3 separate regions of the Homo sapiens genome follow, and regions 1 and 3 are each linked to region 2. Evidence: fine-mapped expression QTL. A gene starts in region 2. Each other region holds a variant in brackets. All regions are shown on one strand. Distances are from middle to middle.

Region 1 (8,000 bases), 290 kb after region 2:
GGATTCCTTCAAGGACAATGAAATGTAAATATTTACATTTTTACACTTGTAAATATTTTCCTCTAATAGGGAAACTTCTCAGGTATGAATGCTCTATAAGAGTGTAACTATTATATTGATATTGGCCCCAAAAAAGCAAAGGTTTGTTTAGAGACATAAAAAGTGAAACATATTATCTCCATTGCACTCAATAGGGTAAGCTTTATTGAAATTCACTTTATAATGTATTATCTTTAAAACAAAGTCTAACTGTAATGCATACACACAGTATTCCTAACGTATTTGTAGCTTCATGTCATTAAGGAATTTTGCATATTCCTTAAAAATGGAAGAAAAAGGCATTAGAAAGGTGTTACCTTACGCTCTGTCTTGAACTAACTAAACTATTTAAGTAACAAAAATATTTATGTGTTAGGAGGAGCATGCCAGAGACTCATATCTGGATAATTTTTCTTTAGCTTGTCATTTTTTCTTATTTGCCATGAGAGTATGATGACAATAAAAAATTCCCAACCCTGGTCACTAAAGTAATTAAAGACTATATTCTAACTGACAACTGTATTTCTTTATTGCAGAATAAATCATTCGGAAGTAAATTTGGTAACCTTATTGTTTAAAAAACTTTGTTTTCATGCTCTAAACTTAGGATAAATTATATTGTGTCACTGAAAAACTTACTTTCTATGTTTCTGTAACCAGTATTGTATCTTAGAAGCCAAAACTAAATTTAAGTAATTTAAAGTAGCATTTATAAGTTATGGCCAAAATATAATTTTCTAATGCATTGTAGATTACTGTTTAAAGGAAATTTGAATAATCATGTATTTCTAAATTAAATACATTTTTATAAGTTTCCAAAGAATTTAGGATTTAGTATTAAAGCACCCCTAACTCAACTTTGTATACATTACTATTAAGCAATACTACGAGGCCAAAAGGATTTCAGAGGATCTTCTTATTCTGTATTATATCCTGCAGAATTATGAAGTTTGTGTAGTTATTATTTTGAAATAAAATGATAGTGAATTACAGAAGAAAGAGGATTTTTCAGGCCAAGCATGGTGGCTCATGCCTGTAATCCCAGCACTTTGGGAGGTCAAGGCAGGCGGATCACTTGAGGTCAGGAGTTTGAGACCAGCCTGGGCAACATAGGGAGACCCCATCTAAACTAAAAATACAAAAATGAGCTGGGCATGTTGACAGGTGTCTGTAATCCCAGCTTCTTGAGAGACTGAGGCACGAGAATGGCTTGAGCCCGGGAGGTGGAGGTTGTAGTGAGCTGGGATCCTGTCACTGCACTCCAACCTAGGTGACAGGGCAAGACTGTGTCCCAAACCAAAAAAAAAAAAAAAAAAAAAAAGAGGATTTTTCTCTTTGGTAATAGTGGTTGATTTGATTTCATCAAAATCAACCTCCTTACCAAAAAATGCAGACTTCTGCACCCAGGTTGGAGTGCTGTAGCATGATCTCGGCTCACTGCAACTTCTGCCTCTCCGGTTCAAGCAATTCTCCTGCCTCAGCCTCCTAAGTGGCTGGGACCACAGGCATGCGCCACCACGCCCGGCTAATTTTTGTATTTTTTGTGTAGATGGGGTTTCGACATGTTGCTCAGAATGGCCTTCAACTCCTGAGCTCAAGTGGTCCCCCCGCCTCGGCCTCGCAAAGCTTTGGGATTACAGGCATAAACTATCATGTCCAGCCTCTCTTCATTTTTAAATGAGGCTAACCTGATTCTACTTCAAACCATACTTATATAGAAATTTTCATTCAAAATAATTCCTATGTTATAATTTGTAAATTACTTTCTTAATAATACTGAGGGCCCTCAAAAGGAGTGGGAATTACTGAGCTTAACTAGTTGTTCTAATAGAACTACTCCCTACTATAACCCTCACTTTTTATAAAATACTTGTGAAACTTAAAGTATTTTCAAACACAATGGTAATGTTAGGAGAAATTTAACTTATCCATATGAATTATTAATACTTAATAGTAAAATGAAATTTATTATGAAACACTTAGTATGTTGGAACTAGATTGGTATTTATCAAATTGAAATATATAATGTTATGACATAAATGTAACATTTAATTTAATGCAATTAAATTAAATTAAATATTTAATTATTTTAACATTTAGGTTAGCATGTTTAACATTAGAAAAATTTGAAAATAAAAATAGTTTATTCTATTTATGCATCTTATTCATACAGTACTTGTTTGGTTATGATATTTCAAAATTATAAGATTATCTACATAACATTATTATATATAAATTTTGCCAGGATCTGCATATGGTGTACTTTTATGTCATTTTAAGATAAATGTTCCCAAGTTTTTTTACTGTGTTTTATTTAACATCAAACAAATCATGTGGATGTACCTTACTACCCAAATGTTTTACTTGGTCAACACATATCTTATGTTTTACCTTAGATTCTGTCCATTAGGACACTGAATCCTATAGGTAAAATCATTTTTCTGAAGTGTTCCAGTAATTAATTGTAAAATCATCATCTCCATCATCATCTTGGAGAGGCAACAATTTCCAAAGACAATCAATACAAATGCCTCTCACCTTCTTTCTCCCTATGCACAAAATTTTATCAAGTCCCCACTGGTATCTTCTATACCTCAAGCTGAATTGGGAAAAAATTCCACTTGGGCATTCCTAATAGAGCCCAGGGACAGGACTCATTCCCTTCCCTGCTGCTCACACCTCTAGGGAATCTCAAAACAAAACTAAAAACTGTTCTAAATATTCCATGCAAACATGGGTAATATCATAACTAACTTGCTCAGCCTCTTTATCTAACATTTAGAACTAGCTTGTCCAACCTGTGGCCTGTGGGCCAAATGTGGCCCAGGACGGCTTTGAATGTGACCCAACACAAATTTGTAAACTTTCTTAAAACATTATGAGATTTTATTTGTAATTCTTTTTTTTTTATTAGCTCATCAGCTATCGTTAGTGTTAGTGTATTTTATGTGTAGCCCAAGACAGTTCTTCTTCCAGTGTGGCCCAAGGAAGCCAAAAGATTGGACACTCCTGATTTAGAATTTTAGGTTTAAGGTCTTAGAATCAAGGGATTTTTTTTAATTAAAAATTTTCATTGTCTTAGTGATTCAAATGAAGGGGAATTTTAAATGACCCTAATTAGAGGAGACCGACTGACAGTAGTCTGCTTTTCATAAGACAGTCTTTATTCAGGTACACAATTTAGTACTAAAGTATGAGGACAAGAGACCT[T/G]TTTGATTTAATTAATTGGGCATTAATTTTACTTTAAAAACTCAGTGTCCTTAGAAGCTGTGGAATACAGAACATTCTCCTTTACTCTAAAATGAAGTAATATATTGGCATAGATTATCTCCCATTTTTTCTAAGATTTGCTCTGGCCACTATCTGGACTGAAATTATGAGAACAAGAAATGGGATTTCTCATTTAATAGTAACTAAATCATCAGTAGCATTGAAAGATAGATTAATAAATATAAAAGTAATGTGTGATACTCTGTGGTTTTTTTTTAAAAGGCAACTTTAGATACCTTTTATATATTTTTATTTGCTTATAGCTTAAGATCAATCATTTTACATATATTGATGTTTTACAAATTTTATTTTGAATGAGATACAGGAAGCTCATATTGATATCACAAGGTTATGGTTTATATTTAGTTCATAATACTTTTCACTACAGAAGTGTGTTTTATAATGATTTCAATGTATGTATATATTTACTCCTATGAGCAGTTACCATCTTTATAACAATAACCATTTAATATTAAAATAAAACTGGGCTTTCTAAAAGCAGTTCAATTTGGGAAGAAAACTTTTCTTTTGGGGGACTTAATTAATATAAAAAGCTATTAAAATAAATATAAAGAGAGTAATTTCAGTGCCAAACTAGAACTGCATAGTAACTGAATTATAAATGTTATATTTTATGATTTGTCATTGATTATTGTGAAACCTTCAAAGCATAGGTTAAAATTTCATTTATCAAATTGTTTTGTAGGGGTCCAGGTGGTGGTAGACCTTGGCCAAACCCAACAAATGCCAATTCAGTGAGTATATATATATATTTTTTTTAATATTTTGCATTTTGTAACATTTAACAAAAATCACAAAAACATTTTGCTTTTGAAAGCTTTGCAATTGGTTGTAGTAACCCTTTTTTAAGTAATCATTCAAAAAGTTTAATATAAATTTTAGAAAAAGATGCATAATTTTTTGAAATTATGTAATTTTCTTTCACTTCAAGGTCTAATGTAAACATGCATTCTATTGTCAACAAGACTTTCAAAAATAAAAATTGAAATAGTGTGACTTAAGTATATACTACAATAGCCTATAAATAGTGATCTGTATCATAAAATGGTTTGATCTTCTAAAATAACTATTAATAATCACTGAGTTGCCAAATACAATCAACCTGTTAGAAGAAGCCAAATTATTATGATTTTATTTGCTATATCAATTACATCTAGGTTTGCTTTCTTGCTGCCCCAGAAAGCAAATGCATATTTACCTTGTACCTGTTAGCTAAATTGCCATCCTTGTACATCTCTCTATATACCTGACATCTTGGGAATTTTCCTTATATATTTGTGGCCGTGGTTTGATGGCACTAATATTTATCTCTCTTAATAATGTCACAGAAATATGTGCACAGGTTGAAAATTAAGCTATCGATCTTAATATGATTTTAATGTTGTGATCCTGGAGATGTTTTTCCTTCTTGTCTTTGAAACCTTGAGTTCTTCGATATGTGAGAGAAGTCTGCCATGTACATCTGTGTACTGTGTGCACTGCACAAAGGTTCCCGGGTCAAGAGAGTCAGTAGGAGAATGAAATACAACCTGTGATCCCCTTGTGAAGTCAATGGGCATCTACGCAAAGAGGATGCTTTTTGCTAATATGTACAAAGGTATCTTCATTGGCTAGCAGTGGCCTTAATGTTAAATGAATATGAAACCGATCCAGTGTTTAAGGTTAGGGTATAGGAAGAATCATCCTAAATCCATTGCTGTTTTGAAGCAGGAATCACTTTCAGCTCAAGTAAATAACTGTCATATATTTTTTAAAATGTTAATTCATGTTATCTGCTTTTCTCTTAATTTTAATAGCTACGATGTTTGCTAAGTAATTGAAATTATTTGAAGTGAAAAGAATGATGTTGCTTCCATTTGAGTCTTCAGTGTGTTATTTAATTTCAACAAGTCTTTCTCCTAAAATAGTGTTTTGCCAGATTGTGTTGGAATAGAGTACCTTTACACCCTCAAAATTATTTTCATTTGCTTACATGCTTTACAAGAGTTTACTTCTTATGATCTATTAGCTTCTTACTATTTGACCTAACCAATTCATTCAAGATTTCACTTTAAAATCACACCTGTCTAGCAGGTCAAGATACATTTATTTTAACTTCCTATTTAAATGCCCATAAAAAGAATGCAAGAAAACATTTTTTGTAACAAAACTCTTCCCAGTGCCAGAATCTGGAAAGAATTTCCATTATCTGCATGTCTCATGAAGCTAGATGGAAAAGCACAACCAATGGCTCACCTTAACTATGGAAACCTTCCCACCTAGAAGCACAAAAACCATTCTCTTATTCCTCATTGTCAGCTCAGCCAGTCATCCCTTTACTGCCATTGTAGGCAGCCAGAGTACAATTCACACCCACCACTACCCACCTTTATAAGTACCTTCTTTTACACACTCATTCAAAGATTATATCTCCCACAAGGCACCTAGGAAGGTGGACAGGGTTTGAGCGGTTGATATTGACAAGGATGTTTCATTGTACCAAGGGGGTATATTATCCAAGTAAACAGTATAGATGAGAGGGGAGCTCTGTGTTCTGATGACTTTTAGTTTTTTAGGTACTCCATCTCTTTAGGATTTCATAGCGCTGGGCACTGTGGGTAGGAGAATACGCTATAACACACTAGCAGTTATGCATTATTTTAGACCCTGAGAAACATAAGGAATTAGGGTAAAAGCTGTACACATCAAACTGCTGTCCACCAGTCTGAAATGGGCATTTGACTAGCACACATGTAGGCAAGTAATGGAGTTGAAAGCAGTCTCCTCGATGAATGTATACCAAATGTGCAAACATCTACCCTTACTCAAAGTATGAGAATAGGGAAAAGAAGTGGAGGAGGCCTATCATTCTCTCTTTAGAGAGAGAAAGTAGTCATCATCCTGAGCATCCAAAGGAAAAGTAGGCCTCTGAAAATGACCACTCTAAGAACAAGGGGAAAAAAATCATAGATAACTGACGACTTTCTAGCAAAGACCTAGGGCTTCTATGAAACAGAAGCAAAAAGTATTAAGGAGGTATTTTTCCCCAAAAACCATGGATCATTTTGTGGTGACAACTTATCCAAATTATGTTGAATTCCAAGTTTCTTAGACTTCCTGCCCATATTTAATATTAAAACACTTTTCAGTTCGTACCAATACAGTTAGTCTCTGACTCCTCAAGGCAGCATATTGAAGTAGTTGTTTGTTTTGTTTTTGCTGTTTTCAAATATGTTTTGTTTACTATTTTTTCTTTCAAGTGTTTATTTTGGAATAACTTCAGAGTTAAACATTGCAAGAATACTACAAAGAATTTCCATACACCCTTCACCCAGATTCCCAATTGTTAATGTCTTACCACATTTGCTTTATTATTTCCTCTCTCTACATAAACGTATTTTTAAACTGTTTAAATTTCCTGAAACTTTATCCCTAAATACTTGCATGTATATTTCCTAAAAAACTAACACATAATTTTTTTATAACCCCAGTAAAATGATCAAAATAAGGAAATCAATTCTGATGTAATGCTATTTTCTAATCTACAGATTTTATTCAGATTTCACTAATTGGCTCAATAATCTTTTCAAACAAAAGAAAATCCCAATTTACTTGTTACATTCACTTCGTGTCTCTTTGTCTCCTTTAACTTGGAACAGTTTCTCAGCTTGTTTTTGTTTGGAGCGGGAGGTTGTTTGTTTGTTTTGGCCTTTCTTAACCTTGGAGTTAAAAAACTCCAAGCAAGATTATTTAGAATGTATATAATTTGGTTTTATCTATTTCCTTCTGATTAGATTTAGGTTATATATATTTGTCAGGGATACTACAGAAGTAATTTTGTGGTTTTTGGCCGGGTGCAGTGGCTCACACCTGTAATCCCTGTACTTTGGGAGGCCGAGGCAGGTGGATCACGTGAGGTCAGAAGTTCAAGACCAGCCTGGCCAACATGGTGAAACCCCATCTCTACTAAAAATACGAAAAATTAGCCGGGTGTGGTAGCAGGCGCCTATAATTCCAGCTACTCAGGAAGCTGGGCAGGAGAATCACTTGAACCCAGGAGGTGGAGGTTGCAGTGAGCCGAGATCGCGCCATTGCACTCCAGCCTGGGCAACAAGAGTAAAACTCGGTCTCAAAAAAAAAAAAATTTTGTGTTTTTCTCAATGCATCATTTCAGGAGGCACATGATGATTTGTCCCATTATTGTTGATGTTAATTTTGATCATTTAGTTAAGGTGGTGCTTGTCAGGTTTCTCCAGTATAAAATAACTATTTTTCCCCTTGTACTTATTAACTTAGAGACTTACTTTGAATGTACAGTAGGTATCCTCTTCCTCCTTATACTTTCATCTGCTATTTTGGACATCTATTGATGATTCTTGCCTGAAACACTTTTTTACTTTGTTGGTTGCCAAATGGATATTTTTGAATTCTGTCTTTTCTTCTCCGTTTATTAGTTAGCTAACTATAACAGAGTTGTTTTTTCTTTTCCATTCATATTCATTTATGTATATACGATGTATTCATGAATTATTTTATTCTGTGGGTTTAGGATGCTAAAATTGTTCAAAGTTTTCCCCTTTAAGTGGGATCACTTAACCTTTTAACATGTCCCCATTTTTCTCTGAGCACATTGAAGCTCTTCTTATATTTTCCCAGTTTTAGCCCTGGAAACAGCCACTTCTTTAAGGAGC
Region 2 (8,303 bases):
TTGCTGGTCAGGGTTCCCCTATGCCAAATCCAGGCTCCCCAAATTCATCAATCTCATATGTGGGTTAAAAAAAAAACTCTAAAAATACATTGTGATTCTCTACACTAGGAAGCTTTAAATCTCCAATCTTTTCCCTTTTTAAAAAATGAAAACAAAACAATGGATCTTCATTTTTGTGTCTGGGATCTCAAATTTGGCTCTGAATATGTGTTTCAAATCTCATTAATTACAATATTGGTCCCAGGAGATACAGTTGCTGATGCAAAGAACACTCTTTGTACTCAACATAATTTGAACAAGGGCAAAGAAGCATTTTATTTACATGTGAAAACATTTAGAGGAAAATAAAACAGAGATGGTTCAGGTAGCTGCTGAGCTGTTTTAATGATAATTGATTTGATTACTTAAGCTTTAAGGTTACTATATACAGGATACATATACATATAAAAGTCATGTTTTCACTTTGTATATTTGTCAGATGAGAACATTCTTATAAAGGTAACTCTGACATTAACTTCGCAAGTTCTGAACTAAGACCTTTTAGCATTTTATTCTTTCCAAAGACTAAGACCAAATTGTTCTAAATTCCATACCCCACTGTGCAGATCTATAATTTATTTATTTTTTAAACATCAGAAAATATGCCATTACCCATAGGACTTCCAAATGTAACAAATCTGGGTAAAAACCAATCAAATGAATAAATTATAGCAGTAGACAGCAAACAGTTTCTCCTGTTCTCTTTCTTCATTTTCCTTTCTCTATAGGAAATAGCAAATTAAACCATGGCTATTCATGATCTTGTACTATGAGAACACATATGGGCATACATTTTTGTCCTATTAACAAGTTTGTTGGCTTGGTGGCAGAAAGTAAAGTACACTGTAAAGACATCTTAATGCTTTGAGTAGGGTCATTTGTTAATGGACAGCCCAACCTAAAAGTCTTGTACTAATCTCTTATGGTACCCATTGGCTGTCTTTAAATGGATACTGAAGAGCAAAGGCAGGCAGCCCTGGTTATACACAAGAACCACGTGGAGCTTATGAAAAAAATGCAGGTACCTGGGTCCATCCCCAAGGTTTCTGATCCAGTTAGTATATAAACAAACAAACAAAACCCAACAACAATGAAAATAAAGGCAATTCTAACGTGCCATGATTGAGAACCATAGTTAAGAGAGTCCCAACACCAGTGCAAGGATAATACCTACTTTGTTTTTGGATAGTAGGACAAAGCCCACCCTTGGTTCGTTTTTCCAGGGGCAGGCAGGAGGGTGTCTGAGAAGCTGCCAGAGCTCTCTGAGAACTGACAGCATTCTCTGAGCAGCACCTTTATAGGGAGTATTCTATAAGAGATGGAGCCTTGATATACTAAAAATTTTCTGGGTTAAGGCCAATGGAAGTAGATAATTGAACAAAAAAATTACATAATGCTAACCTTGAAGTTGAGTCTGTAAACTGTGGCAACCTTATACACATTTGAGCATTTTGAGCAAAAGTTCATTAAGAGAGGCTGACTGGCTCAGCTTCGCTTCAATCACCCAATCATTGCAGGTCATTAGAAACAAAAAGAAGAATATGAATGCCATATCCTAACCACCCAATAACTGTAGGTCATTAGAAACTGACAGAAGAATTCTTAAGTCAGAAATGGCAAATTACATCTCTTGGAAATTAATCTACTTAAGCCAGTGTATTTTTTTCCCCCACTTTTCCCCCCTCATTTCCTTTATTGGCTTAATTTTTGTCCTTTTAATAAAAGTGCTTTTTTTCTTATATCTTTTTTTTAACGATAATGTCTGTCCTCTATTACTTTTAATCTTTTGCTATCACACTCTATGGCTTCTTCATTTAATCCTGTATCTTCTAGTCTTCTCATCTTTTTATACCTCACTTTCCTCATGTTTTTTTCCTTGTCATTAACACCAGTATAGAAAGTCCTTCCTCTTCATTTTCCCGTCTTTATGTCTGGTTGCCAACCGCGTTTTTGATTCTCGACCTCTCACTTTTGCTAACTGCCCTTCCTTAATCATCTGTTGATGTTTTATTCCTATCACTTCTGTCAATGCTCACACCCATTTCTTTCCTTTCCATCTATCTGTATATCTCCATATGCATTTTATGATCCTCCTACTAAATGCTTAAAGCTGTGTGTGTGTGGAATAGAACGGTACCTTCCTCCACGCGAATCCGATTTCCCTCTCCTCCCATAGCTACTTCTTGTCTATTCATCCTTTCCAGATGTCGCCCTGTCCCACCCCATCTGTCCCCTTCTTCCCCGTGTGAAGCCCATCTTCTTTCTAACCCCATTTGCACCCGTCTGATTTTACAGTCAAGGACTTCAATAAGATAAATGATGCAGAGTTCTACTGGGAACCAGATTGTGTGTGTTTCTGAAACTTTTGCGCGTTTACTGAAATGGGATTAGGGATTTGGATACAGAAACATTCTCGGGCAGCCTTTCAGCCCTGGCACAGCTTTGTACACCTTGGAGCGCGCTGGGGCCTATTCTAACGGGCAAGGACAGGGAAGTCTTTCAAGACCTTTTCTGGCCTTTTCCACTCCAGGGGTCAGGATGAATAGGCATCACTGACCCAAACTGTTAAACCAGGCCGGGTGGGGAAGCCTGGGGCCCTCTTCTGCGGCAGATCTGGCGGGGTGTCCAGGGCGCCGCGGGGCTCCGTGCAAGAAGGGGTTGGGGCAGGGGCCGCTGCGGCCGCAGGAGTCACCGGGCCTCCTCGGGAGGTCCGCTCACCTCTTACAGAGGAGGCCGACCCCAGGCCGGGTGCTCCCCTGGGGCGCAGGGCGCGGCCCCGGGCGCCGCCACCGCAGCGGCGCCGAGGGCCGGAGGTGCAGCCTTTCCCCAGGAGAGAAGGCGAGTCGCTGTCGGTCGCTCAGCCAGAAGGTCGAGGGAACCGCGCGGGTGTCCCTCGCCAGCCGGCCCTCTGGGAACAGGGCGGGGGCGACACCCCAGGGAGTAGGGCTGAGGACCGCAAAAATCAATCGTGGGTACCGGCGCGGGGTCACGCATAGGAGAGGAGCGGGAGAGGGGCTGGTGGGGGCCCCAGGGCGGCTGAGGCCGTGGCTCTGTCGTGGACTCGGCGGGCGCCCCGAAGTCTGGGGCCGCCACGGCTCCAGCTCCGCCGGCTCCGGCCGGAGACTCCAGGCCGCAGTTTCTCCTCCTCCCGGCGCCTTCTCTCCAGTGAGGAGCTGAGCGCGGGCGGCGCGGGGGGAGGGGTGGCGGCGGAGAGAACAGCCAGTTGTTTAAAATCCTTCTAGAGCAGTTTCTAATTCCCCCCTTGCGCCCGGGTTCGGAGGGGGGAGGGGGAAGGAGAGCGGGTGGAGGGAGGAGAGCGGAGAGGGAAGGCGGGAGGGAGGGAGTCGGGGAGGGAGGGAAGGAGGGAGGAGACTGCCGCTGAGGCTTAGCCGCCACCGCGCGCTTCGGAAGGCCAGAGGGAGGGGGAGGCCTGTCAGTCTCGCGCGTTGCCTGGGCGAAGGGGGCGGAGCTTTGGCGTGGGGCGGCCAATAGTGGGGGTGGCTGCGTGGGTCGCCATGGGGACGGGGCTGTTCCCGGGGAGGCTGTGATGGGTTGACAGGTGCGTGACAGTGGGAGCTGCTCTCGGCACAAGCATGTACGGCAAAGGCAAGAGTAACAGCAGCGCCGTCCCGTCCGACAGCCAGGCCCGGGAGAAGTAAGTGTCTCCGCTTCTCACCCACCTCCGCCTTCACACGCGCGCACACTCACGCACGCACTCGCACACTCTGGGAGACACAGACACTCTCCGCCCGGGGAGCGCCGGGGGTGGGCTGGCAGGGGGAGGGGTGCCGCGATGGGGGCGTGTGGTGCGGGGAGCTGCGCTTTCCCGGGAGGTGCGGGCGCTGGGCGGGCGGCCGCAGGGGGCTGTCGGCGGGAGGGACCGGGTGTGTTGAGGGGCGGCGGTGGTGCTGGTGGCGAGGATGGAAACTTGTTTGGGTGATTGAGGGAAATAACCCGCGGGTTCACCTTCCAAAGTAACTTTAGAGCTGGGGTCCGGGGCTCCGGGGACCTGGGGAGCCGCCGGGGGTGGCGGGAGGGGCAGCTGCGTGGAGGAAGGCGCGCAGTGGGAATGTGGGTGTTTGGCGGGCCGGCCGGGGTCGGGGCCGGGGTCGGGGCGGGCAGCGCGGGGAGCGCGGCGGCGGGGGCCTGGGCGCTGGGGCTTAGGGCCGCGAGCGCGGGGCGAGGCGAGGCGAGGGCGGCGGTGCCGGGCGCGCGGCGGGCGGAAGCCGGGCGTGGAGCGGCCGAGCGGGGCCCCGCGGGGCGCGGAGACGCGCGCGGGGCGCGGAGGGCGTGTGCGGGTTGGGCGTCCGGGCTTTCCTGGGCCAGCTACGGACGCGGCGCCCGCAGTCCCCCGCGCATCGCGGGGCTGGGGCTGGGGCTGGGGCGGGGGCGGGGGCGGGTGGGCGCCGGAGACGCCGCCGAAGTTTGGGAGTCGGAGAGGGACCGAGTTCCCGGGGAGCTAAAGTGTGTTGGCGAGGAGCGGGATCCGCTGGAGGAGGCTGGCGTTTCTGCCTCTCGCAGCGGACCCAACTCCGCGGCGGCGGCTGGCGAACTTTTTGTGAGGCTGGCAGCCCCCGAGCGGCGGGAGGGGCGGGCCCGGCGGGGCGGTGGTCGGGGGCGCGCGGAGGGGAGTTGTGGGAGCCGCCGGGGGCGCCCGAGGAGGGCAGCTGTGGCGGGGAGGGCCAGTGGTCCGAAAAGGGGTTTGTGGGAGGGGAGAAGCGTTCAGGTGGGAAGGAGCCGCTTGGTTACAGTTGTGGGGAGATACAGGTGTTAACTTCGGTGGGAGCCCAAGAGGCGGCTGGCGAGAACAGAGCCCCTCCCGGCCCGGGATGCCACTGTCACGGCACACTGCAAAGCAAAGCGGTTTGCTGCTATTCTTGTGTACTTGTAACGGTGATTTGGTTGTTACTAAAAATGAGAACGAATAGTGACTGTGATCACTGAGGAAGAACCCCCCCCTTTTTTTTTTAAACTGTGCAACAGATCAGTGATTCCCAGTAACCACTTAAACTCTGAGGGTCAGAGTTATCCTTGTCGTTGAACGCACCCTGTCTTTCTGAGGGGGTTCAGACCAGAGAAAAAGTCTGAGAGCATCTCTCAAAGGTACTTTGGTTACCTTGCGCACAGAAATAGCTGCGTAAATAAAAACCGAATGCGCAGGCGACTGAGTTTCCCTCCTTGGTTTAGGCAGTTAGTCTCCCCCTGAAAGTTTTGTGTGCCCTAGGGATGGGAACATTTCCTAATCTTTGTGTTGGCAGCAACACACTCAATTCCCATAGGATTTAGAGGTATCAGGCCTTGATGTAGCAAAGCAAAACAAAACAAAACAAAAATTAGAGAGGCTTTTTTGTTTTTTTGCAAGAGATATTTTCTGAGCTGCATTCAGGATCTTGTTGCTGTGACAAGTAGTATATAAAAGACATAGCGTTATAGCCTGGTTAAGAAACGGCAGTTACTAGAATTGAAGTTTTGAAATGCAGTCTCATTTGTGTGCATTAATCATTTTGTTATAATGTGCCTGATAAAAACATCTGAAGGAGGATGTTTTAATGATCACAGAATATTTGAATTTCACATTAGTCAGAGTGATTGAAATGTATTGAGGCATGATCTTATTTTGGGGGTGACTGAATTTGAGAATCAAAGTAATTTTAGATTTTAGGTGAACTTCCAGGAAGGGGTGAACTTTAGTTGAATCCCACTCAGTATCCTGAGGACTGCTTGATTTTTTTTTTTAGTTTCTCAGATAATAACAAGGATGTTGGAACTTGCATAACTGTGGTCCTTTCTAGCTCTAATTCTGTGATTTCCCACCAGGAAAACAAATAATTGCCACTTTGCTGTCAAATCTACCAAACTGAACACCAAGTAATATCTACTCTCGTGAGCAGATCAGGGTTCTGCTAGATGGTGCTATTTGATTTAAATATATTTCTTCCATTCATTTCAATTGGCAGCAGGAATTCTTGACTGGTTTGCCTTATGAACTTAAATATAGGTGAAGAGGCCGCTTTTGGAGAATTGACAATGACTGTTCTGGGTTAATTGTCGTTGCATTAATTTCTAGGTTAATGTTGTTTGAATCTAAGACAAACATCGACGTAGGTTCTGTCTTATAGAATAAACTTAATTTCATCTTGGTGGGAGAGTTGATCTAATCTCTCGGTTTTTCTCTTTATGTTTACTTGGGACTTTAATGGCACTATTCTGCAACAATGTACTAACATCTGAAGGTAGGAATCTTGAAGTCATCATTAAAATGGATGTCACCAGATTTTTGTTCTTAATTTTTAAGGTAACAGATTATAAAAGGTGAAGAATTCTCCTTTAGTAAGCAAATTAGAACTGTTCTTATCTTAAAAATCACAGAAATAATTTGTTTCTGTAACAAATACTCATTTTAACAAAAACATTCTGCAAAAGGAGTCATTATTATAAATAATAGCATGCTTAGGAAATAAGCACATTGGTTTTATAATCAAGAAATGTGTTTTCTAACATGAGTTCATGGTGAATAGTTGACAAGTGCTTACCTGTATTAGATCTTTGTTTTGTCTTTCATTAGGAAGTCACTATATGAAATATTTGAAGTGAATTATTGGTTTTACACAATTCCTGTAATTTCAGTATACAGTTCTGATAAAAATGATCAGGGTAAGATTAGTTACTTACTCTGTCATTTTAAGAAAAGCAGATCAAGTCTTAATTATAGAGGGAGTGATTGAAAACCCTTGGAGGGAGGTGGGATTTAGAAATTTTAATTCTGATCTTGTTAGGTCATTTCTTCCTTTAGCAGGCTTTCTTTATAACACTAATCGCAATTGTGATTAAATAACCGTGATTGGCTGTTTAATGTTTAACTTTCCCTAAAATATAAGTTTGTTGAGGGTAGGAGATAATCTAATTTCTTCTCTGAGGTATCTTGAACATTAAGGTGCCTTCTAATACCAAAAGCATCAATAAATTATTGTTATTGAAGATGTTAGACTCAAAGGAATTTTTTCAATGTAAAAAAATTTTTTTTCAGTGACCTCCAAAATAAGGACTTGTAAGTTTGAGTTTCACATTCTCTAGCTTAGTTGTATTTCAGAAATACCCCTAAACAACAATACAACAAAAATAACTATTATTTATTTGCCATCCTGTGTGCCAGTCACTATGTTCAGTGTTTTATGTATATTTTTTTCTTAATTCTCCCAACAAATCTACAAGACAGTTGCTTTTTTTTTCCTCCATTAAAGAAATATGAAAACTAAGACCCTGAATGGTTAAAGAACTCACCGAGGGATACAATGCTAGAAAACAGGAAAGCTGGGTTTCTAACACAGATTTCTCTAACTTTAGAACCTGTGATTGAAGCTGAAAGATACATTTTTCAGTGTACCAGATTGTCTTCCTGAACTAGGGTAGGATGCTACAGATTTAGGGAACAGCATTACATAATCAGATGTGACAGACTTTAAAGATTTGATCAAATATGCAGTCTTAACCACTGGTGCACCCTGATGCTTTGCAGATCTGTGTATGGTGTGGGAGAAGGCACAGAAATTTTAGGAAAGTTGGAAGCCTAACATAATGACGAAAACTTGTTTCTTCAGATTCCCCCCCCCCCCAGGAATTTTGTTTGATTGCTTGTTTTAAAGTTAAACATAATAGTTGTGAACAATTCCTATATGAAATGTTGCTGAACTTAAAGCCACACAGTATGCCACACTACCGCAGAAAGAGTAACTGGCACCTGCAAATAGATGAGTAGTGATATTAATTTTTTATTAAACTAATTTGATCTTTTATGTAAAGCACAGAAAGATGAATCTGCTAGAAAGCAAAGTTGAACATAAAAGATACACATAATATATACCGACTTTTATTTAGTAAACTAGCCAGAAACTACAAGAATCAAACTGTCTAATCTTGAGCTCTGAAAAGTAACTTTGGCTTTTAAATTTTCAATGTTAGTTGAATATACCAAGAAGCAAATACCATATGCTTATTTCAAAGTAGTTACAGTATAATGAACATTTAAATGCCACTTCATATAAAAGGGATTAATATCTGCCAGCATCACCTTGTTCTCCCCTTCTACCATTAAAGTAATTAAAGCATTCCCCCATCATTAAGGTACCCCCTGCAAAGAAAAATGACAAACCTTTCTTTCTTTCTGAAGGAATAAGGCAAGAAAAGTAATAGAGATCTCTTCAGAAACTTACTTGACAGCAATTCGCACAATTCAGGATTTCCAAAACTAATGAAGGAGTATCTTA
Region 3 (8,000 bases), 320 kb after region 2:
TGATTTAGAAAGCTTTTAAAGATGATATATGAAATTCCTTTCAGCCCTTTAATAACTGAGGGGTCACCCATTTAATCAATGAAACAAAAATCCTTTTCCTTGGAGTTGGGGTTGAGGGTAGAGAGAAGTATATGGTTTGTTTTCTTTCTTTTTTTTTTTTTTTTTATTGATCATTCTTGGGTGTTTCTCGCGGAGGGGGATTTGGCAGGGTCATAGGACAATAGTGGAGGGAAGGAGGGAAGGTCAGCAGATAAACAAGTGAACAAAGGTCTCTGGTTTTCCTAGGCAGAGTGTTTGTGTCCCTGGGTACTTGAGATTAAGGAGTGGTGATGACTCTTAACGAGCATGCTGCCTTCAAGCATCTGTTTAACAAAGCACATCTTGCACCGCCCTTAATCCATTTAACCCTGAGTGGACACCGCACATGTTTCAGAGAGCACAGGGTTGGGGGTAAGGTCATAGATCAACAGGATCCCAAGGCAGAAGAATTTTTCTTAGTATAGAACAAAATGAAAAGTCTCCCATGTCTACTTCTTTCCACACAGACACAGCAACCATCCGATTTCTCAATCTTTTCCCCACCTTTCCCCCTTTTCTATTCCACAAAACCGCCATTGTCATCATGGCCCGTTCTCAATGAGCTGTTGGGTACACCTCCCAGACGGGGTGGTGGCCAGGCAGAGGGGCTCCTCACTTCCCAGTAGGGGCGGCCGGGCAGAGGCGCCCCTCACCTCCCGGAAGGGGCGGCTGGCCGGGCGGGAGTCTGACCCCCCCCACCTCCCTCCCGGACGGGGCGGCTGGCTGGGCGGGGGGCTGACCCCCCCCACCTCCCTCCCGGACGGGGTGGCTGGCCGGGCAGAGGGGCTCCTCACTTCCCAGTAGGGGTGGCCAGGCAGAGGCGCCCCTCACCTCCCGGACGGGGCGGCTGGCCGGGCGGGGGGCTGACTCCCCCACCTCCCTCCCGGACGGGGCAGCTGGCCGGGCGGGGGCTGACCCCCCCACCTCCCTCCCGGACTCAGAGTCTCGCTCTGTCGCCCAGGCTGGAGTACAGTAGCACAATCTTGGCTCGCTGCAACCTCTACCTCCCAGGTTCAAGAAATTCTCCTGCCTCAGCCTCCCGAGTAGCTGGGATTACAGGCGCACACCACCATACCCGGCTAATTTTTGTATTTTTAGTAGAGACAGGGGTTTCACCAGGCTGGCCAGGCTAGTCTCAAACTCCTGACATCGTGATCTGCCTGGCTGTGCCTTCCAAAGTGCTGGGATTACAGGCATGAGCCACCGTGCCCGGCCGGTTTGTTTTCTTAGAAGAAAAGCAGCTAAGGAAATTCTGCAGTTCGTATTAACATATCTCACATTTATATTTCTGAGTTTGAAAAACACATGTATGTGAGAAGACAAGCTCTGATCATATCATGTTTAATAAATTACCAAGAAAGTATTTTCAACCTGAAGCATTCTGACCCCAAGAATTTTGGCTCCAGTTAGAGATCCTACACCATTCACAAGGGAGCTGGTAGATGACTAGAGATCTACACCATCATCTCATGTGTGCTGACCTGAGTTCTAGCTCATTTGTGCCCACTGGGAGAATGACTGACAGTTTGTTCTTTGAGGGAGCTAGCAGAGTCAAAACAACACTCTAGAAAACTCACTATTGGCAGCCTGTGAGAAAGCAATTCAAAATCCACTACTTAGAATAATGTCATTATTATTTTATTCTAATTACAGGCAGAGCCACAGTTTCTATAAATGTTCACTTTTTTAATTTGAAAATGGAAAAATTTAAAATTTTAAAAAGTTTTAAAAGGTTTGAAACAATTTTTGAGGATGGGAGAAGGGATAATAACTTACTAATTAAGAGAAGATATGAGCTGGGCACAGTGGTCCACACGTGTAATCCTAGCACTTTGGGAGGCCAAGTGAGGAGGATTGCTTGAGTCCAGGAATTCATGACCAGCCTGAGCAACATAGTGAGATCTCATCTCTGCAGAACATTTTAAAAATTAGCCAGATGTGGTAGCACACATCTGTAGTCCTAGCTACCCAGGAGGCTTTGGCAGAAGCATCACTTGAGCCCAAGAGTCCAAGGCTGCAATGAGCTGTGATCTCACCACTGTATTCCAGCCTAGGTGACAGATACCATGTCTCAAAAAAAAAAAGAGAGAAGAAGATATGTAATACCTGCTAGAAGAAATCAGACCAGGAAGTCCAACAGGGTTAAACATGGCAGCCAGAGGAAATTGTGTTTGTGGTGTATTATGTGTGTGTGCATATATGTGTGTGTGTATATATATATGTATATAAATATTCATGTGTGACATCATAGCTTAAGAGAATTTCCAACTTGAAGAAATGATAAGTGAGAATGTAATAAAATTTCTTGAAGTTGGTATCAGTATAATCCTAACCATATTTTTTCAAGCAAAACTCTTAAAGTAGGGAATAAAGTACATATTCATTGAAATAACTGTAACCGATGGGCCTAATGTATCTAAAAGTAATCTTGTACTCTTTTGTGCTGAAGCAAGTAGAGTGCCTTTTTGACCAACCTAAGTCCTTTTTATACATCATATTCTTGCCTTATTGATGAAACCTACTGGACATAATACACAAATACAGCTACAGTTAAATGAAGCATACACACAATTCATTACCACCTACCCTCATTACCTGTTCTGGGATGGTTTTTGGTACCGCTATCTTAGCTGTCCCTCAGATGCCAATATTGAATATGCCCTTTAGCCCATATCATCATGTCACTCAGCGATTACGGACAGCACAATTTTCTTAAGATTTCCCATTGAGGAGCTTCTGTTGTTTTCCAATTTTGCAGAGATTACTCTAGTTAAAAACAAACCAAAAAAACCCAATTGTCCTATCACTTCAGGCTTTTCAAATACGGTCCAGTAGGCTGAATAGGAATAGGTTTCAGAGATCTGATTTTATCTCAGTTTTGTATGTTGAATGTATCCTTTCAATCTTCCTGTTAGTGTCCTTAAATACCCGTCCCCACCACACATACACACACACACAGAAGAGTATAATGCTGAGCCACCATGCTATGAAGAGGTTGCATGTAAAACAGAAATAATAACACTGGAAGTATTTTGTGTGTATTTAAACATTAGCAATGCAATGTTACTTTCAAATTGTAAGTATTTAAAAATCAATATTTTGAGTTAGGAATCAGGTTTGAAGTTAGCCAGACTTTCAGAATTATAAATCAAGAAATGATATATGGCAAATGTGCAGCAAAGATTTAAAGCACCCTAACTGAGTCTGAGATACGCTGCTTCTCTCATGGTACCTTATATACCACAGGGGGTATGAATGTTACACAAGAATAAGAGGGTTCATTTTACTCTTTTGTTTGACTGTGTGAAATATGCAGCTTCCAACTGCATCCTTGAATTTTCTTATATATGTGTGTATATATTAGATTGTATTTTATTCTAGTATTACCAATTTCTCCATTATATATAAAGTGACAGAAATCCAAAAGAATTTATAAATTATAAGTAAATCTTACAATATTTTTTATAAATTCATTTTCCTTTTTGAGCTAAGTCAGCATTATCATTCCTGTTTTCAAGGTACAGTTTATTTAACCTAATAACTTTAATAATTAATGAATTCTAAAATAATGCAGTTAGTTAAATTTTACTTAATTTTTTTCCCAGGAAATCAAGATATTCAGATTCATTTCAAAGTATAGTTGCTTTTCTATATACTTGGATAACTAACATTTTTCAGAGAAAAATTTGTCAAAAAAAATAGAATCCTCTTTATGCTATTAAAGTATATTTCCCAAGTCCTTGGGGTTTCTTGACACAGAGAGCTCCAATGGACTTCAGAGGATCCTTGTTCTCAGATCCTCCCTGCGGGGTGCACAGCAAGACAAGACACAGTGTATTTCTACCAGCTCATCTATCT[A/G]TCTCTGCTTTACATTTTAACCATTTTCTTCTGGGAATAACTCATTCATGAAATGTTAATTTTTATGATACAAGTTGTTGTAGTTAAGACAAAATTCTCTGAGCAATTTTCTTTAAAAAAAAATCTAAAAACTAATTCCAAAACAATGTAAATAGGAATGGCTTAGGAAAAAGTAAGCCAGTAAGTAAGTAAGTTATTTCTTCCATTTGAAATAACAACTAAAAAATGTTTAACTCTGAAGTTTTTTTTTACAAGTTAATGAATTGGACCTTCAAAGAATTACAGTTATACTACTGTATAAACATGGTTTATAGTCCAATGTCATTCTACATTTCCTATTGATGTGGAGTATCAGGTATCCTGCCATGGCTAAAATTGTGCGGTAATAATGAGACTAGCAAATTTAAATAGAATATGAAGCAACGCACTGCTAACTTGGTGTTCGATTAGATTGCTAATAACAGTCATTTTATCTTCCAAGGAAAGTTCCAAAGTAAATCTACTCTTAAACTAATGATAGGAAAATATTCTAAAGCAGTTTTCTTTTGAGCCTCCTTTTCCTCTAAGAGTACATAATAAATTCTCAAGTCCTAAGGTGTCTCTTGTTCTTAAGTACAGTTGTTAGCTATCTTTCTTTTTTCCTTAAAGTTCATGTAAAAATGGTTGAAATAGTGTTATCTGTATACTGCATGTAGAATTAAAAGGAAATGTTTATTAAAACAGTGACCTTTCAAAGTTTGGTTAGTGAAATGACTAAGGGAGTTATTGTTCCATCTTGCCTTATCAGTGGGTAGGATCTCTTCATCATGCCCCTGCTGGGAATGTTTTAAACTCTCCAGTGTTTTAGGAACTCTATAAGCTGAGGGTGGGAAATTGAATAAATATTGATTCTGAAGCTAAGAAAATAGTTGTGGTAGGTTATTGGGGGTTTTTTTATTTTTTTTTAAATTTTCATTTGGGAAGGCATTAGTACTTGTCAAAGTGCAAAGAATGAAATAGAATACATGGTAGAAGTCTAAGATTAAAATTAGAAGTATGCTTTGTCCTTAGGGATGCTGTTTCAATATTCGAAACAGTACAGTGCAAGAGGGAAATTAAAATTTTCAACAATGCCTTGTTTTCTAAATCTTGTTTACAGAATTCTCCCAATAATATGAGCCTGAGTAATCAACCGGGCACTCCAAGGGATGATGGCGAAATGGGGGGAAATTTCTTAAATCCTTTTCAGAGTGAGAGTGTAAGTATTCCCTTGACTATATTATACTCAAATTTTATTTCTGAAGCTCTTCTGCTAGAATAAATGCATAAAGCCACTTTTACTGCTGTTTATCTAGAGTTCAACAGGTTTATCTTTTAGATAAGAGAAACTTTAAGTGGAATATCTTTGAAAATAATTTTTAAAACAAACTTTTTCTTTTTTATTCTGTGTACATAGTTAGAAAAACCATAATAATAGTTTTCTCATTGAGAACCTCCACTGTAAAGGAACAAACTGGAAACAGGTTGCCTATTTGATACTTTTTATAAGTTTTCATGCTACTAAAATGTCTCAGGTTGCTGCAAAACTAGGTGTGTTTCAGTGCTGTCCTCAAAATCTAAAAAGTCTGTTCTTACTTTATATAGTAGACCTCACTGGACTGAAGGCCAAATTGGCGGTCTGTTAACCTGAGCTGAATACCCAAGTCACTGCTTGCGTGTGATTGTACTGTTACACAAAAGTTCATTCCATATCTCCATAGAAGTAGACAGAACCAAAAAGAGAAGCAATAAAATTCATTCATTTAACAAGCAATTACTGAGCACTTACCACATGCCAAGGCAATATGCTAGGTATTGGAGAGACCAAAAAGACAAAATGGTGCCTTTTCTCAAGGAGTTCTATGTAATATAATGATTTTTTACATTAATATTTCACATTAGAAACCCCAATGGAATTTTTTAAAATACAGTTTCCCAGAACTCTCCCTAGACTTAGTGAATCAGAATTTCCAGGAGTGGAGCTGGGCATACTTGAATGTGGAAAAGCTTTGTTGCTGATGCTGGTGTACATTCTCTGCTAAGAACCACTGAACTGGAATGTAGCATAAAAGATTTCAAAACCCAAATGAATTTCATCTTCACAGGATTCATAGCATCCTTAAAATTTCTTACGGAGGACCTACCAAACTGCAGTCAGAATCATGAGAGAGACTACCCTCATTTTGCCCAACTCAGCATTTACCAGAGGTGATACCATCAGAATTTGAAGCACTGGCTAATAGCACGTCTACCTTTATACAGAGTGGCTGTTCCATTCCCAAAACAGAATACAAGATTGAGTGCTCTGTGGATTCTTGTAGTTCTGATATCCACATGGGACCTTTGCAGGGGACAAGACATCCCCTGTTTTTAGAGTTCGTTTCTGTTAAAATTATGCTGATCTGTAGTTTACTTGCAGGCAATATATGATTAGTGAGGACAAATAATTTTTTATGTGTAACAGTTTACAGTTGAAAAAAAAATTTAGCCTGTCAGTGTTAAGGAAAAACATGAGAAGCTACATAATTTAAGTCATAATGCTTAAGATTATGGGAATTATTTTTTAGATCCTGGTTCTTTGAGTGGTTTGCTTCAAAACTATGGACAAATTAATTTTTCTATGTTCACTTTTATCTAATTAAAGACATTTATTTCCTTTTCGAGTAATTTTACCAGCAATAAAGTGGTATAATTCAGTGAGGTATTTGATAATTCAATTCAGTTTAACATTTATTGAGCCTATTATATGCAAAGCATCAGGTTAAGACCAAGGTATTCTGAAATAAATATAACACCTACTTTCAAAGAGTGCAACCCAATAGGAAAAACAGATGTTGATATAACTAAAACGTGTCAGATTAATGAGTGCTGTAATGTATATATAAGCCATGTATTTTAAAAGTCAGAGGAAATGATTAATTTGGAGTTGGAAAAAAACTTTTTTAAAAAGCTTCCACATGACTTTCACTTATGGGCAGTGACAAGAGGAACTCTTCCCTCTACTTCCTTCCCAGATTTGTCATTAGTGACTGCTGTCTTAACAGTTGGAAGAGGGGTACCAATTCAGAACTGGCATCAGAAAGCTCTTCACTGGGGCAAAGATTCAGATATGCCAGGATGTGGAGAACTTCCTTGCACAGAATAAGCCCCAGCTTCTCCCTTCAATCCCTAATGGACTATGCACATGGCAAACAACAGATTCTTCTGTGAATATGTGCATTTAGAAACGAGAGCAGCTGGAACAAGGCTTCTTCCACCCCTAACTTCTGGCTCACCCTCCCTGCCCCTGAACTTAAGCGGGTTCAATGCTAGACTGCCAGCAGAGTTAACAGCAAACAGAAGTTCCCTGCTTTCTCTTCCCTCCTTGTCTCCTGTCCCCACCAGAAATGTTGTAAAAGGAAAAATAATTTGATGGTGGACTGAGAAACTGCACCACCACCCTGGAGGGTAGTACAGCCTTGGAAGCAGGTACACACTGGCTTCTCCATTCTTCTGTCTCCTGAGAAGAAGGGACTTGTTATGAATGATATCATTGTTATGTGTGGCTTTCTTTGTCATATTACTATACATTTTTGTTTAGATCTTTTTATAAAATCAAGCAATAAGAGGAGAGAGGAAGAAAGACAAAAGAGATTTGGTGCTGACAAATGTAAGGCTTTGAAGAAGTAAATAAGCTAGTTATCCCCAATAAGTTAGCTTTGCTATAATCAAGGAAAAGCAGAACTCTTAATGAATTCAAAAAGAAAACATTGTTCAATAAATGAACATGCAAGTTCTAGTGTTTAATACACATAACTCTGAAAGCACATATTTTTGAGCAGTCTGCCTTTTAAGGATCTGTCAGGTTTTATCTTGAAGTTAAATCACAGAAGGAGGCCTGGGAAGGGAGCAAGTATCTATTGAGTACTCTTTATGTACTAGATACTATCCTAGTCTCTTCACACTCACACATGCTGCTTCATTCAATTAATATAGAAACAAAAATGCCCAGCCCAAAGTCATAAACCTTGCGGTGCCAACATGCTTGACAAAACAAAATGCGAATC

Evidence for each region.
Region 1: its variant is fine-mapped to the expression of SSBP2 in whole blood (TOPMed, PIP 0.97).
Region 3: its variant is fine-mapped to the expression of SSBP2 in tibial artery (GTEx, PIP 0.95).

The regions. Positions count from the first base shown.
Region 1 is chr5:81,457,119-81,465,118 of GRCh38, reverse strand. It overlaps SSBP2 (single stranded DNA binding protein 2), which reads left to right. Exons shown (of 17, transcript NM_001256732.3): 10 at 4,016-4,064. Among named protein-coding and RNA genes, the nearest start is that of ACOT12, 67 kb to the right of the region's middle. The variant T/G (reference allele first, on the strand shown) is at 3,250.
Region 2 is chr5:81,746,372-81,754,674 of GRCh38, reverse strand. SSBP2 (single stranded DNA binding protein 2) reads left to right here and starts at 3,578. Exons shown (of 17, transcript NM_001256732.3): 1 at 3,578-3,694. The coding sequence starts at 3,633. RefSeq lists silencers at 2,677-3,026, 3,297-3,626, 3,797-3,846, 4,287-4,336, 4,557-4,716.
Region 3 is chr5:81,425,758-81,433,757 of GRCh38, reverse strand. SSBP2 (single stranded DNA binding protein 2) reads left to right here. Exons shown (of 17, transcript NM_001256732.3): 16 at 5,075-5,173. Among named protein-coding and RNA genes, the nearest start is that of ACOT12, 36 kb to the right of the region's middle. RefSeq lists an enhancer at 29-714. The variant A/G (reference allele first, on the strand shown) is at 3,937.